2 separate regions of the Homo sapiens genome follow, and region 1 is linked to region 2. The links come from fine-mapping of genetic effects on gene expression. A gene starts in region 2. The other region holds a variant in brackets. All regions are shown on one strand. Distances are from middle to middle. Region 1 has its middle 4.6 kb from the start of TRI-AAT9-1. Region 2 holds the start of PRSS16 (serine protease 16).

What was found. PIP is the estimated chance that this variant, and not a neighbour inherited with it, causes the effect. A credible set is the group of variants that fine-mapping cannot tell apart.
Region 1: its variant is the best candidate, but not a certain one, in a credible set for the expression of PRSS16 in whole blood (TOPMed, PIP 0.76).

Annotation. Positions count from the first base shown.
Region 1 is chr6:27,267,918-27,270,837 of GRCh38, forward strand. It overlaps the pseudogene CDCA7P1. Among named protein-coding and RNA genes, the nearest start is that of TRI-AAT9-1, 4.6 kb to the right of the region's middle. The variant G/T (reference allele first, on the strand shown) is at 1,667.
Region 2 is chr6:27,246,048-27,248,967 of GRCh38, forward strand. It overlaps PRSS16 (serine protease 16), which reads left to right and starts at 1,654. Exons shown (of 12, transcript NM_005865.4): 1 at 1,654-1,760; 2 at 1,835-2,001; 3 at 2,800-2,899. The coding sequence starts at 1,691.

The sequences.
Region 1 (2,920 bases), 22 kb after region 2:
TCTATAGCGTAGCATAATTTATTTAACTAGACCTCATTTGTTGGGCATTCAGGTGGTTCCTACTTTCTCTCTCTCATAAAGAAGTTTCACACGCCTCCCGCTCCTCCTGTTGTGTGACCGCTACGCGCGCCGCTACCGTGCTCTCCCGGCTCCAAGCGCAGACCAAGAGTTCCGCTGCCAGCAAGGCTGCTCTCCGCGTGCCGCAAAAGGATCTCAGAGTAAAGACGATCTTAAATTCGATATGTGAAGTTGATTCCCATGGAAACCTCGTCATCCTCTCATGACAATTATGACAGCTTTGCTTCTGATAATTTTGCAAACACGAGGCTTCAGTCAGTCCAGGAAGGCTGCTGGACCAGCAGCCAGTGCAGACACTCTGGACTTCTCAGGCAGGCGATGAAGTTTCCAGGGCGAAACACCAGGGGAGCAGCCAATAAAAAAGCAGAGTACCCCAAACCCTCAAGGAATTCTATGACTGGTTCCAATTCCGATTCAGAAGATGAAAGTGCCATGAATTTGTTTTGTTTTGTTTTGTTTTGTTTGAGGAAAGGGCTTGAAATATAAAGCAAAACAAAGCAATGCTTGTAAAACGCATGTCAGTATTAGAAGCTTCTCTGGTTTGTTCCCCGGAAGACATTCCCCGCCAGGCCCCAACTCACAATCAAGGAGACCCCAAGGTAAACATTCCTGGATGTTTCTTCAAGGAGACATTCTGAATGGAGAGAGCTCGGCCTCTTAGAGGTCAAGGTCAGGATCCTCGGGTCCCTTGGCGCTCTACCTACGGAAGAGAAGGAAGAAAAGACAGAGGCTAAGTACATGTTGGTGAGAAAGAGGAAGATTGTGGACGGCTACATGAACGAAGTTGAGATGCTCAGAAATCGTCCCGCCAGATCACCCATGATCCTTCCACATATAATTCGGCCACCGGAAGAAATTACAGAGGAAGGTTTGGAGAACATCTGCAGCAACTCTCAAGAGAAGATATATAACCGTTCGCTGGGTTCTATTTGTCATCAATGCCGCCAGAAAACTATTGTTATCAAACAAACTGCAGAAACCCAGACTGTTGGGGCTTTCAAGGCCTGTTCTGCGGCCCCGACCTTAGAAACCCTTGTGGTGAAGAGGTCAGGAATACTCTGCTGGATGCGAACTGGCATTGTCCGCCTTGTCGAGGCCGTGCAACTGCAGTTTCCGCTCGCAGCGAGATAGACTGTGGGAAACTGGGGTCCTTGAATATTTAGCCAAATACAATGGCTTTGGGAATGTGCATGCTTACTTGAAAAGTCTGAAACAGGAATTTGAAATGCAAGCATAATATTGGAAAATTCACTGCCTGTCTTCCACTTCTCAAATCTCTCTTGCTGAAGTTTTCAATTTTGTCATTGCTTGAAACCTGAATTAAGAATCTTGGTGATCAGTCTGTTTTATAAGAAACTTCCATCAAGAAGCAAAACAAGAACAAAAACAAAAACAAAAAAAAACCTTCCATCAAGAATCTTGACAATCAGCCTCTTTATAAGAAGCTCCAATCAAGATAAATCTCAGTAGAGACATGTGTTTCTGGAGCATCACTAAACGAATATTGCTGGCTATACTTTCCCCTCCTACAGTTTTCTCCTCTGCTCCCCACAACCTCCAATTCATAGTACCCTTTTCTCTTTCCAAT[G/T]GTCCTCTCCCCCTGCTTAGTTTCTGAAGTCTTTTTAAATGACAATTTTATGAAAGCATATTTGATTTAGTTGCAGTTGAAATAGCCCTGCAGTCCACTCATGAAACCTAAGCACTTAAAAACACAGTAGTAGTATTAATTAACTATATCTATTGAATTTCAGAGAACAGCCCTCTAACTTGTTTATGCAAAAACAATGGGTATGTGGGTTGGGAGCCATGGCTCATGCCTGTAATCCCAGCACTTGGGAGGCAGAGGCGGGCAGATCACCTCAGGTCAGGAGTTCAAGACCAGCCTGGCCAACATGGTGAAACCCAGGCTCTAATAAAAACATAAAAATTAGCTGGGCCTGGTGGTGGGTGACTGTAATCCCAGCTACTCAGGAGGCTGATGCAGGAGAAACGCTTGAAACTAGGAGGCGGTGTTTGCAGTGAGCAGAGATGGTGCCATTGCACTTCAGCCTGGGTGACAAGAGGGAAACTCCATCTCAAAAAGAAACAAAAAACAAAAAACCAATGGATATGATTTAGTGTTTATACTAGTTGATATTTTTAACAGAATCGAGGCACAAAAGTCTTAAAACCATGTGGGAAACTTAGGTAATTGTTGCAGAGTGTAGCATATTACTTCAGATGCCTCTCATGAATATATTCCATGTATTGTGCTTATGATACAAGTTGTCACATATGAGTCCTAGTTGCTGCTAATTTCTTCTGCCTTAAAGTTAAGTGTAGCATCTCCCTTACACAATCATGATCCAAAGGTTTGTGGGCAGTGTTATACTTACAATATAGATATATATAGATATATATGTCTATCATATTTATAGCCTATGTATGACTATATATGATATATACCAAATATGAGATATATATGATATATATGAGATATATATGATATATATGATATATATCATGTATGAGATATATATGATATATATGATATATATCATGTATGAGATATATATGATATATATGATATATATCATATATGAGATATATATGATATATATCATATATGAGATATATATGATATATATGAGATATATCATATATAGCCTATATAGACTATCATATATATAGTCTATATATGATAGACATATATGTCTATCATATATGTCATATAAAGTACTACCATTGTAATTTCCCAGGATATCTTTCGATGTCTTTCCTATACCATATAGGAAAGACATCCTGGGAAATTACAATGGTGAAACTTTAGGCGTAGGCTCATTGAATTCTTGGTATAAAACTT
Region 2 (2,920 bases):
CAGAAAACTAATTCATTAATTAATCAATTTATCCATATAGCCTTTTGCTCACTGCATATTCATTGAGAACCTTTCAAGTGCCTTGAAGTAGTTTGGGTGTTATGGGTACACCAGTGAACAAAACAGACAAAATTGCTTCCCAGAATAAGCTTACTTCCTGGGGAATGGTTTGGGAGAGAAGTGCAATAAAATGTCATCACTATCAGGGAGTGACAACAGAAGGATCAGGGGACAGGGTCTCAGGTGTTGTGCCATTTATAAGGGTGGTCAGGTAAAACCCATTTGGTAAGATAAAATATATGAATGGGGAACTATAGGAAGTGATAAAATAAGACTTGCAGATATTTGGAGGAAAAGCATCCTAAGGAGAGCAAAAATTCTAAGGAAGGAGTGAGTCTTGTGAAATATGAAATAGTCCAATGCAGTTGGAGCAGTGAACCCAGGAGGGGTAGGAGATGAAATCATGACAGTATATACAACAGGGGGCCAGGTCATACAGAGTTTTAAAAACTGTTTTCAAAACTTTAGATTTACTTTGAGTAAGATGGGGCATCAGGGAAGTGTTCTAAACCAGGGAGTGAATGATTGTGAATGATTGGGCTAATATTTAATTCTGTCTCTCTGTCTGCTGAGTGTAGAATAAATCATGAGGCAGAAACAGGGTGACCAGCTAAAAGCCTTCCATGATATCCCAAGTCAGAGATGATGGTGGCTCAGCAGTGGTAGCACTGAAGGTAGTGAGAAGTCATCAGATTCTGGATATATTTTTTAAATTTATGGGAATAACTTTTTAAATGTACAATATTTCTCATAGTGATAAGTCCCATGAAAAAGAATTAGGAATAAAGTTTGAAAAGGAATAGAAGAGGGCCATAGGTTTGGCAATTTTTAAAAAGCTGACCATGGAAGACCTTTCTGAATGAATGACCTTTGAATAAAGATCCAGTTGAAGTGAGGGAGCAAACCACGTGGGTATATAGGGAAATCACAATCCATAGGGTGGGAACAACAAGAATAAGAACCCTAAGGCAGAAGCAAGCCTGGTATGTTCAAAGAACTGTAAGGAGTCTATGGACAGTGTGAGATTGTGGGTCAGAGAAGCTCGGGACAGTGAAGCAGAGCAGAAAGTGAGGGGGCTGGAAAATAGACAAGGTGAGATTGGGGGACAAAGAGATGAGTATGGAGAGAAAGACTGAAAAAGAGATGGGGGACTGAGAAAAAAGAGACGGAAAGACTGAGTGTGGGAACAACTGAGGGGTACTGAAGATATGCTGAGGGGCAGAAAGAAAAGACTGAGAATAAGTGGGCAACTGGGGTTCCAGAGGAGGTGCTGAGGTGGGGAGAGACAGAGGTTGAAGGACAATAAGGCATGCAAAGGAGGAATCTGAGATAAAGAGAAGGTAGACCGAAGAGCGGAGAGGAGGAGACTGAGACAGCGAGGGCTACTGAGAGCTGAGGGAAGAACAGACTGAGAGGCCCAGAGAGAAGAAACTGGGAGTTCCGATGCTGCATCAGCAGCCTCTGTGTACAGACTCTGGCGTCCCTGCCCCGCTTTAGCAGTTCCTACAGACGCTTGACCTGCCAGGAAAGGAAAGAAACCTGAGCCTCTGCTGAAAGGTGATGGATTTAAGGCCCGGCTGCTGAGGATAAGATAAAGGTCCTCCTGGGGGAGAACAGAGTCCCGAACACCATGGCCGTCTGGCTTGCCCAGTGGCTGGGCCCTCTGCTCTTGGTTTCCCTCTGGGGACTCTTGGCTCCAGGTAAGAGGAGGCTGAGGGTCAAGCAGGGCATCCTAAGGGGGCCAGCCTGACTTCCTTCCCTCCATGTCCCACAGCCTCCCTTCTTAGGCGCCTGGGTGAGCACATTCAGCAGTTTCAGGAGAGCTCTGCCCAGGGCCTGGGCCTGAGCCTGGGGCCAGGTGCTGCAGCCCTCCCAAAAGTGGGGTGGCTGGAGCAACTGCTGGACCCCTTCAACGTGTCCGACAGACGATCCTTCCTACAGGTGAGGCCGGGAGACGGGGAGTCCACTAACCATCCTGCCCTCTCCTCAGTCTCCCTCATCTCTTCCTCAGTCTGCACTTTTTTCTCTCTCCACACCTCAGTTCTCCCCATCCCTCTGCTTGAATCTCATGTTATGCTTGCTGTCAGTATCCCTTTTCCTGCCCTTTGTAGATTTGGCCTTACTCTCTCCTCTCCTCGGGGTCCCACTCGTTTTGTCCCTCAGATCTTGCCCTTCACCATTTCTTTCTCTCTGTCATTCACATTCACTGCTCCTCCCTACCCCCTTGTCCCTGTCCAGACTGGACACAAAACCTACCACCAGGTCTCAGTAGGTAGCAGAAATTTGAACCAGCTTTGGAATCAGACCTAGCTCACAACAGGCACTCAAAGATATCTATCGAAAGAAGGAACAAATTCGCCATTTTTCAGTGCTTCCTCTGTATTTAGTCTCCAAATATCATCCCACTTGGATCTTATTCCTAAATCCATCTGCATTTATTTCTTATTTTACAATTATTACTTCAAGAAATAGCAAGTTCCTTCAATGTGAGAGCCACTCCCTCAGTTCTGGGGATATAAGAGTGAAAAACCAGGTCAAAAATTTGCTTTTGTATATTTTGCATTCTAGATGAGGAGATGAACAGGGGAAAAGTGAGCAAGTAAATAAACAAGCTCATTTCAGACACTGTTAAGTACATAAGGAAAGATCCATTAGGAAGAGAGACTGGAACAAATGAGGAATTGAGAATAAGTCAGGACTCTCACAGTGCCATTTCTTCTTCCCCATCCCACCTCTCAGCGTTACTGGGTGAATGACCAACATTGGGTTGGCCAGGATGGACCCATATTCCTGCATCTAGGGGGTGAGGGCAGCCTTGGGCCTGGCTCAGTGATGAGAGGTAAGAGGCAATGTTGGGGGA